Regions from separate parts of the Homo sapiens genome. Here region 2 is linked to region 1. The links come from fine-mapping of genetic effects on gene expression. A gene starts in region 1. The other region holds a variant in brackets. All regions are shown on one strand. Distances are between the middles of the regions. Region 1 holds the start of VNN1 (vanin 1). Region 2 has its middle 21 kb from the start of VNN1.

What was found.
Region 2: its variant is fine-mapped to the expression of VNN1 in whole blood (INTERVAL, PIP 0.97).

Annotation. Positions count from the first base shown.
Region 1 is chr6:132,711,391-132,716,777 of GRCh38, reverse strand. It overlaps VNN1 (vanin 1), which reads left to right and starts at 2,723. Exons shown (of 7, transcript NM_004666.3): 1 at 2,723-2,952; 2 at 4,939-5,069. The coding sequence starts at 2,743.
Region 2 is chr6:132,731,950-132,737,336 of GRCh38, reverse strand. It overlaps the pseudogene VNN3P. Among named protein-coding and RNA genes, the nearest start is that of VNN1, 21 kb to the right of the region's middle. The variant C/T (reference allele first, on the strand shown) is at 2,600.

The DNA.
Region 1 (5,387 bases):
GGACAAGGTTATTGGTCCTATGATTTAGTCTCAGTCTTTTAGTGAGCCTGTACCCCTGGGTTTATGAACTTCACTTGGCTTTTTTCTTCTGCCATTAGTTGGCATAAAAACAAGCTAGAGATGAGATTTTCCCTTTCCCCAAGTTAAAGATTAGAGTGGCTGGGGTTGGCATTTTTCCTTCCCCTAGGTAGGTTAGGCTCTGGTAAAATACTTTACTTTGAGGGCAGGCTTTTGTTAAGAAGAACAGACCAGAACTCTCAAGGTTGTCCACCCTGAGCCTCCACCAATTCGTCAATTACAGTTCAAGTGAACCCACGGTACTGGCGCCAGCCGCAGAGGACTCTGCTCGCAGTACACTCTTAACCTCTGTATCTGCCTATCTCTGCAGTTCTGAGGACCGCAGTTTATCCTGTGATCTCAATTCTCTGATGCATCCTAGAAAAGTTGTCGATTTTCATTTGTTTAGCTTTTTTCTTGGTGTGAGCATGGGAAAAATGACTGCCAAGCTCTTTATGAGTTGGACTAGAAACTCCACGGGAGGTTTAATATTTTTAATCTAAGAAGGTCAAGAAGTAATTTTTTAACCTCTTGCCAACTCATCTCAGTTTTAACTTTTATTTCAGTGCTTCCTTTTACAAATTGTTACATAATAATGACATCTTTTTGTGAAATATGTGGTATTCCCACCCACCTGGGCATGGAAAGGCCCTAAGAGGTCAGCAAGCAGTTAGAGAAGCTGGTGTTTACCGGAAACTCAGGAGAACCAGCCAACCACAACCCCTGGGTTACCTTGGCAATTGCAGAATAAATGCATTATAGTTACTAAAGTAAAAAATTAGATATGCCTGTTTGCAGATTGAACTATAAAAATACCATTCAAAGACAAATAGATCTAAAAATAAAATGGAAAAACATAAACACTAATTCTGTAAATATTATACTTAATGCACAACTGAAACAAAATTTGCCAGCTTACTCAATATCAAAATCTATGAACAGTTTTTCTATTTTATATAATTTCCCTCTCCTCTCTCTGGATCTCGCTCCCCAGCTCATTTTTTCTTTTTTTTGCTCTGATTCTTTATACACCTCTGTTGCCTCTGTGATAAGCAGCTTCAAAGATGGTTCCTAATGCTTTATTGGATAGAATACAACAAAAGCGATGAGGTGTTGCTTCCCCAATTACATTACGAAGCATCCGTGGCTTCCATCTCCAGTGGGTTCACTTGCTGTCTGGCTCTAAGGGAATCCAGATACCATAATGCGGGCTGCCCTATGGTGAGGTTTGCATCACTAGGAACTCATGTCTCTGGGCAACAACCAATGAGGTCTTGATCCCTGCCGTCAGCCACATGAGGGAGCTTGGAGCTCGGAAGTGAATCCTCCTGGAGTCAAGCCTTGATATAGCTAGCCCTGGCAGCTGCTTGACTGCAGCCTTGTGAAAGAGACCTTGGGCCAGAGGCACCAGCTAAACTGCCCCTGGATTCCTGACCCAGAGAAAGTGGGAGATGATGTATTTTTGCTTTTTGAAGCTGCTGAATTTGGGGATAATTTGTTATATAGCAATAGAAAATGAGTAACTCTTTTGTATTCCTCTTTGTCCTGGCTTCCCCATTTTGAGGAAAATAAAGTAAATCAAAGTGTAGAGCTGAAATATTCACATGAAAATAATAATAAAGTTTTAAAATTATTTGAATGTCTTGTGTTGACATTCCAAAATATATGAATTCCAAAAATTTATATGTTGAAGTCCTAACTGTCAGTATCTTAGAATGTAACTTTTTTGGAAAAGGGGTCATTTCAGATCTAATTAGTTAAGATGAAGTTATACTGGAGTACAGTGGGCACTAAATCGAATTGGTCCTATGATTGAGTCTCAGTCTTTCAGTGAGCCTGTACCCCTGGGTTTATGACCTTCAGTTGGCTTTTTTCTTCTGCCCTTATTTGGCATAAAAACAAAGCAGGTGGATCACCTGAGGTCAGCAATTTGAGACCAGCCTGCCCAACACGGCGAAACCCTATCTCTACTAAAAATACAAAAAATTAGCCTGGCGTGGTGGCGGGCGCCTGTAATCCCAGCTACTTGGGAGGCTGAGGCAGGAGAATCACATGAACCCGAGAGGCGGAGGTTGCAGTGAGCCGAGATTTCGCCACTGCACTCTAGCCTGGGTGACAAGAGTGAAACTCCATCTCAAACAACAACAACAATAAACAAACAACAACGATGACAAAAAAAGCTAGAGCTGGGATTTTCCCTTTCCCTGTGTTAAAGATTAGAGTGGTGTCCTCACAAAAAGGGAAAACTTGGATACAGGCACACACATGGGGAGAATAGCATATGAAGAGACACAGGGAGAAGGCAGCCATCTATGGGTCAAGGAGAGAGGCCTGGAACACATCTTTCCTTCACCGCCCTCAGGAGGAACCAACTCTGCTGACACCTTCATCTGGGACTCCCACCCTCCAGAACTGCAAAGCAATAAATTTTTTATTTTTTACACCACCCAGTTTATTGTATTTTGTTAGGCAGCCCTAGCGAACTAATGTACATAGAGTTCTTGAGTTAATCTTCACAAATTACTGCAATAAGGTAGGGTCTTTTGTTATGTAACAATGCTATGAAATCATAGCGTTTTCTTAATTAACTTCCGTAGTTTAAGGTACTAAGTTCTGGACACCACGTGTCTTCTTTCTATAAATACCAGGACATGCTCTGTTTTTCAGCACTCATTGGACTTCAGCATGACTACTCAGTTGCCAGCTTACGTGGCAATTTTGCTTTTCTATGTCTCAAGAGCCAGCTGCCAGGACACTTTCACTGCAGCTGTTTATGAGCATGCAGCGATATTGCCCAATGCCACCCTAACACCAGTGTCTCGTGAGGAGGCTTTGGCATTAATGAATCGGAATCTGGACATTTTGGAAGGAGCGATCACATCAGCAGCAGATCAGGTACCATCTCTACCATCTCTCCAGTGTACTGGATTCTATGAGAAAGGAGGGGGTCCTAGGAGACAGGGCCACTGTCAGGGTCAGTTACACTTTTAGATGATATATGTATCAGAGTAGCCAAGAACCTTTATTTTACAGTTAGAATTCTACTTTCCTCTCAAAATTAGAGCAAGGACTTCCCTAAAAGTAAGAACAAAGTTAAGAAAAGAACAATTTGCTCATTATCAAGAAGCAGCAGACCTTTGAGGAACTGGCCATAAATTCAACATCTTTGTTCCCCTTTTCTGGTACAGATGGAGGATGGAGGATAAATGGGTCAGGGACTAGGTGCTATTTTCAGAGTATTAGTGGCCTTCATGTACTCATGTGCTATTAAGGCTTTGCAGGTTTTCGAATAAATTTATAATCTGAAAACAAATTTAAGTTTTCAATTCCTTGCCAGCATGCATTATATACTTCACACTTCATTCTAATTACAAGATAAAAGTATATGTAATGCATTGTGAGTCCTTAAGTTTAGTGAAGGTTTCAGTTTGAAGTTAATCATACAGTATAAATTGTGGTTTACACAAATATTATTTTAAAAGCTATTGATCGATTAGGTGTAGACCAGGAATACATGAAGTGTGATAAAAGTCATGGATAAATGTGTATTACATATATCTATAAATATATATTCTTTTGTGTTGTTGAGTTAAGGTCTCACTCTGTCACCCAGGATGGAGTATAGTGGTGTGATCACGTCTCACTGCAGCCTTGACTTCCCGGGCTCAGGTGATTCTCCCACTACAGTCTCCAGAGTAGCTGGGACCACAGATGCATGCCACCGTGCCCAGCTAAGTTTTGTATTTTTTGTAGAGATGGGATTTTGCCATGTTGCCCACGCTGTACTTGAACTCCTGACCTCAGGTGATCCACCTGCCTTGGGCTCCCAAAGTGCTGGGATTACAGGCATGAGCTACCGTGACTGCCCTATATTCTTATATATACTAATATTTAAAAGGTTATCAGGAGTTCTGATGTTCTTTTTCATCCTTAGTCCAACTATTTCCTTGAAGGTCACAGAGCTTTTTAAGGTGACTCTCTAATTGGAAGGTGCCCAGGTTAGCTCAGGCAGTACTTGTAGGCATGGGACAGTTCAAGTAACCAGTTTGTGGCTCCTCTTTTTCTGAGAAGCAGGAATCATGTTTGCAGGGGAAAGCTAGGGCAGAGGAGGAAATAAACAGAATATTTAAGTTATTAATCAGTCTTGACACAGGCACAGTCATCAGCGAAAGTTCAAGGAGAGGCTTGGTTCCAGGATAAGCTAGGTTTATAGTTAACGACTGCCATAGGAAACAACAATGGCAGGATTAGAAAATTAAAATGCTTGACTAAGCCAGGTGCGGTGGCTCATGTCTGTAATTCCAACACTTTGGGAGGCTGAAGCAGGCGGATCACCTGAGGTTGGGAGTTCAAGACCATCCTGACCAATATGGAGAAACCCCATCTCTACTAAAAATACAAAAATTAGCCAGGCGTGGTGGCAGATGCCTGTGATCCTAGCTACTTATGAGGCTGAGGCGGGAGAATCGCTTGAACCCGGGAGGTGGAGATTGTGGTAAGCCGAGATCTAGCCATTGCACTCCAGCCTGGGCAGCAGAGCGAAACTCCATCTGAAAAAAAAAAAAAAGAGAGAAAAAAAAATGCTTGACTAGAAGCCCAAACCTCACCATTATGTAACATATCCATGCAACAAACCTGCATTTGTACCCTTTGAATCTAAAATTAGAAATAAAGAAAAGAAAAGAAAAAGAAAAAGAAGTGACAGTGCACTGAAAAAAAAGGAAATTAAAATGCTTTGGAAAAGAAAATAAATTATAAAAATATAGAAAACAAAATAAGATTTAAGGGGTGTGGGGGAAGCCCAAATAGTTGTTACTCAGCCACTCAGCTCCTCAGCTCCTCTTGCAGGCCCCCCTTTGGATTAAGTTGCATTTTTAACAGGGTGCGCATATTATTGTGACTCCAGAAGATGCTATTTATGGCTGGAACTTCAACAGGGACTCTCTCTACCCATATTTGGAGGACATCCCAGACCCTGAAGTAAACTGGATCCCCTGTAATAATCGTAACAGGTAAAGAAACAACTTGTGAAAAATTCACTAGTAAACATCAACTTGATTTACCTGGGAAAACTTTGTTGATGATCATTGCATAGATCCATGATCAATTCTTAAGTTTCAGTATAGCTTATTTTTCATCTACTATGGGTATATTTACTGGGAGAGCAAATATGAATTATGAAGTCACAGAAGTCAGAGCTAGAAAGTAGCTTAGAAATCATCACATTCAGTGTGAACATCTCTGGTCTCTGACTCCTCACCAGTGAACAGAAAAATATTTCCCTGTGTAGGTCTGTGATTTGAAAACTATATGAGTAAATGGCAAAAGAG
Region 2 (5,387 bases), 21 kb before region 1:
ATGGCTGGCAGGTGGGTTGATACTTGGTGGGAGCTTGTGGAAAGGAGTTCTTTTGAGTTGGATAAATAGGCCTGAAGTTCAGAACGGAAGTTTGAGCTAAAGATAGAGACACAGTCATTATCCTTTTGTAGAAGATAGTTGAAGGTATGAAGTAGAAAAAAACCTGGGGCCAGGGGAGAGGGTAGAGTAAGGGACTGAAAGACAGTGAACAACAATGTGGCTACTGGCCATAAGTGCATTAAGAGTTTAGAGAAGGGAATAGCAACAAGACTGGAGAGGCAATGGATTTGAGCTCGAAAGGCAGGATTTGGTCAGAATCATTCCAGGATCAGAGCAACAGTGATCATGTTACAATAAGAAGAGTACTTTTAGCTAAGAACACAAAATATAAAATGGAACCAAGAGAAAGAAGGCTCTTACTGTCTGCTTTGATTCAATATATGCATGGGAAGTATCTTAATTAATGACAGCAATGGTCAAGGGAACTCTAATGGATTACAGTATTGAGGGTTAGGGTGGGAGGAGTGGGATCAGAGAGGCTGATGGAGAGCCTGAAAGAATTCTTATTTATGGGGTCAGGAACTTGATAAGGAGAATGGAGAGGAGGTTTTACAATGAGTTTAGAAATAAAGATTTGGGGAAAGCCAGTAAACTCTTAGATATTTTATTACAGCACCTCTCCTTTAAGATGTGTCCCTTACATATTTAAAAGAAGAATTATATTTATTGTAATACAAAACTTCTGACTCTAAACTTCTTAATCCTACAATAATGCCAGACTGTCATAAGGATTATGTACCAATACAGTGTTTCAAATAACTCATAGCTGCACGCCTTATACACCTAGGAAGCAAAGACATTACTAACAACATTGGGTAATCAAATATTTAACTCAAGTTTCTATTGATTTCAACACACAAAAAAAGCTGGTACATTTCCTGGAACTAGGGGCTGGGAGAATGAAGGGGAATTCCCATATGTTTCCTTTTGATTCTATTCAGAAAGTCAGGTGAACCAAGAAAAGAGTTAGAATTTCAACTTGAAATATGAAAATTATTTTCTTCTCATCCCAGATCAATCCATCTGTTTTACATAGTTTCCCTCTTCTCCTCAGAAATTTTTTTGGAAAAGAACTTATGTCTGATGTCTGATGAAAACAATTTATGTCAGACATAAACTCAGAATTTAGGGCTGAATTTATGTTCATATGTCCTTATTTCCTGAAATGGTATCAGGGCATAAGGACATATGGAAACACTGTGGGGTATCTGGGAGCAGAAATATTTGGATAATGGAAAAGTTTATTGAAACCAAGGGACTTTGAATTATAGAAACAAACCAAACCCAAAATAGACACAAATCTCCATAACTTACAATTTTCCTTAGATCTTAGAAAGAATCTCAAGAGGGAGAAGCAGTGTTAATTGTTCTAGAATCAGAGATTTAAACCTTAAAAAAAATTCTACATTTTAAATTAACTGATATTCAAACAAGGAGATTCAATCCAAAATTGGGCGAGGGAAGTGAATTTAACTAATCAAAAAACATTTACAGAGCTTAGCACAGTATAAAATTCTATAGAAGCAGCAGAGAATTATAATGTGACCCTGCCCTTAAGGGACTTATAAGGATGATATGTTTAAAAAATAAAAGAATTAAAGGAGAACTTAACACTTTTTGAATTATTGATTAGTCTTCATATGGAAGCGGGTTTAAACTGTAGAAGACAGGTAAAGTAAATTGCATCTCAATAACAAGAATGTTCTTAAAATTGGCAATGTTCAAAGGTGGAATAGACTGGCCCATCAGGTAGTAGATTCCGTCATTCAACATTCATTCATATATTGAGCTTTCACCATCTGTCACACATGTGCTGGGGTGATGAGGTTCAACAGTGAGCAGGACACTTCCCTTACCCTCCAGGGGCCACATCCCAGGATACATCATCTCTGTCTAGATGTTTATTGGACATGGATGTTCTGAAAGAAAACAGCAAGTTTCTTTTTAATCTCTTTAAGAAGACAAAACATACATATATAATATTAAGTATTGGTATAATATTTAAATTAAAGGTCAAGACAACAGCAAGGAGTGAGAGACATTCAGCAGCACAGAAAAAAATGCTATAGGAGTTCAGAAATATCACTTAGGACTGGAGTGGATTTGGGAGGACTCTAGGGGGAGCTGGAACTTAGACGGATGGAGAACAAGGGCTTTTCAAATAGAAATGGCCATACAAATATGTAAGTAGAGTGCTCAACAAATTGTTGCTATGATGACTACCTTCCAATATTGGCCCTATTAATAGAAATGTTGGCTTACCAGGAAAATTTTTTTTTATTAGAAAAGACTTCAACTGCCAGTGTGTTTTGGACTGGGGTGAATTCATCTGGTTGGCTCAATCTTTTAGTGTTGACTTGACTCTGAACAATGTCAACAACTGCACTGTACACTTGAATCAATCCAATTACGTCCTGGCTGTCAGTTTTCTTGCACAACATCCTTTCTCAATGCTGTGTTGTGTAATATATGTGCAAGAAAATATAAACAGCTGATTGCCAGGAGGGATTTAATGTAAAGTTTTTCCAGTGAAACAAAA[C/T]GTAAGAATCTGAGTTTGTTTTTCAAAGATCACTAAATTTTAGTTATGATTATATCACATTTTCCAAAATGTGTGGCAGTTTTTGCCCTCCTTGCTCTGAGTGTTGGTGCACTGGACACTTTTATTGCTGCAGTATATGAGCATGCGGTGATATTACCAAACAGAACAGAAACACCTGTTTCAAAAGAAGAAGCTTTGCTCCTGATGAACAAGAACATAGATGTTTTGGAGAAAGCAGTTAAGCTGGCAGCGAAGCAGGTATTACCCTTTTATACTTGTAAAGGAGACTTGCAGTTTGGTCAAAGAGTATTTGGAATTCATGACAAACTTTTTTGCCCCACTTGTTTCGAGCAGGGTGCACATATCATTGTGACCCCAGAAGATGGAATCTATGGTTGGATCTTCACCAGGGAGAGCATTTACCCCTATCTAGAGGATATACCAGACCCTGGAGTGAACTGGATTCCATGTAGAGACCCCTGGAGGTAATATCATATCATTAATTTCTAAACAAAAAGTTGTGATTTGGTAAAACACCAACAGTAAACTCACTGAATTTGACTGGTAATTGTGTTGATAAATAGTCAATCTGTGGCATAGGATGTAGATGCTTTTTTTTCCCTGTAATTTCAACTTTTAGCTTAGATTGAGGGAGTACATGTGCAGGTTTGTTACATGGGCAAATTGCATGACGCTGAGGATTGGGGTACAATGATTGCACCACCCAGCATAGTATACAACAGGAAGGTTTTCAGCCCTTGCCTTCCTCTCTCTCTCTCCCCTCTATTAGTTCCCAGTGTCTATTGCTGTCATCTTTATGGCCATGAGTTCCCAATGCTTAGCTCCCACTTATAAGTGAGAACATGCAGTATTTGGTTTTCTGTTCCTGTGTTAACTTGCTGAGGATAATGTCCTTTGGTGCTGCAAAAGACATGATTTTGTTCCTTCTTGTGGGCACCTAGGTTAATTCCATATCTTTGCTGTTGTGAAAAGTGCTGCGATGAACATACAAGTGCACGAGTCTTTTTGGTAGAATGATTTCCTTTCCTTTGGGTATATACCTAGTAATGGGATTGTGAGTCGAATGGTTGCTGTGTTTTAAGTTCTCTGAGAAATCTCCAAACTGCTTTCCACAATGGCTGAACTAATTTACATTTCCACCAATAGTGTGTAAGTGTTCCCCTTTCTCCATAGCATCTTTTATTATTTGACTTTTTGTTAACAGTCATTCTGACTGGTGTGAGATGATATCTCATTGTGGTTTTGCTTGGCATTTCTCTGATGATAAGTGATGTTGAGTGTTTGTTCACGTGTTTTTTGGCCACTTGTATGTCCTCTTTTGAGAAGTGTCTGTTCATGTCTTTTGCCCACTTTTCAATGGGGTTATTTGTTTTGTTTTTGCTTATTGATTTAAGTTCCTTATGGATTCTGGATAGTAGACCTTTGTTAGATGCCTAGTTTGCAAATATTTTCTCCCATTCTGTAGGTTGTCTATTTACTCTGTTGATAGTTGCTTTTGCTGTACAGAGCTCTTTAGTTAAATTAGGTCCTACATGTCAAGTTTTGTTTTTGTTGCAATTGCTTTTGAGGACTTAGTCATAAATTATTTTCCAAGGTTCATGTCCAGAATGGTGTTTCTTAGATTTTCTTCTAGGATTCTTATAGTTTGAGGTCATACATTTAAATCTTTAATACATCTTGAGTTAATTTTTGTACATGGTGAAAGATAGGGGTCCAGTTTCAATCTTCTGCATATGGCTAGCCAGATATTCCAGCACCTTTTGTTGAATAAGGAGTCCTTTCCCCATACTTATTTTTGTGAACTTTGTTTGAGCTACAGATGGCTGTAGGTGTGCGGCTTTGTTTCTAGGCTCTCTATTCTGTTCTATTGGTCTATGTGTCTGTTTTTCTAACAGTACCATGTTGTTTTGATTACTGTAGCCTTGGGTAATGTGATGCCTCAGGCTTTGTTCTTTTTGTTTAGGATTGGTTTGGCGATTCAGGCTCTTTTTTGGTTCCATATGAATTTTAGAAATTTTGTTTATAAATCTGTGAAAAAATGACATTGGTAGTATGTTAGAAATAGTGTTGAGGCTGGGTGCTGTGGGTCATGCCTATAATCCCAGCACTTTGGGAGGCCAAGGCAGGTGGATTACTTGAGATTAGGAGTTTGAGACCAGCCTGGCCAACGTGGTAAAACCCCATCTCTACTAAAATACAAAAATTAGCTGGGTGTGGTGGTGTGTGCCTGTAATCCCAGCTACTCGGGAGGCTAAGGCATGAGAATTGCTTGAACGATAGAGTGAGACTCTGTCTCAAAAAAAAAAAAAAAAAAAAAAGAAGAAAAGAAATAGTGTTGAATCTGCAGATACTGCTTATGTTTCATAGTGTATATCATCTGGCATATCTCCTGTTTGGTAAATGACTTGAGATACTGATGACTAGTTGGTTATTTGTTGCAATTGTCTTTCAACAATAGTAGGTGTGACCAGGCGTGGTGGCTCACACTTGTAATCCCATCACTGTGGGAAGCCAAAGCAGGAGGACTGCTTGAAGCCAGAAGTTTGAGACCAGCCTGCGCAGCAAAGCCAGACCCTATTTCGGCAAATAAAAAATTTAGCCAGGTGTGGTGGCTCACACCTATAATCCCAGCTACTCGAGAGGCTGAAGCAGGAGGATCACTGGGGCCCAGGAGTTTGAGGCTGCAGTGAGCTATGATTGCACCACTGCACTCCAGCCTGGGTGACAGTAAGACCTTGTCTTAAAAAAATAGTAGGTATAGGCCGGG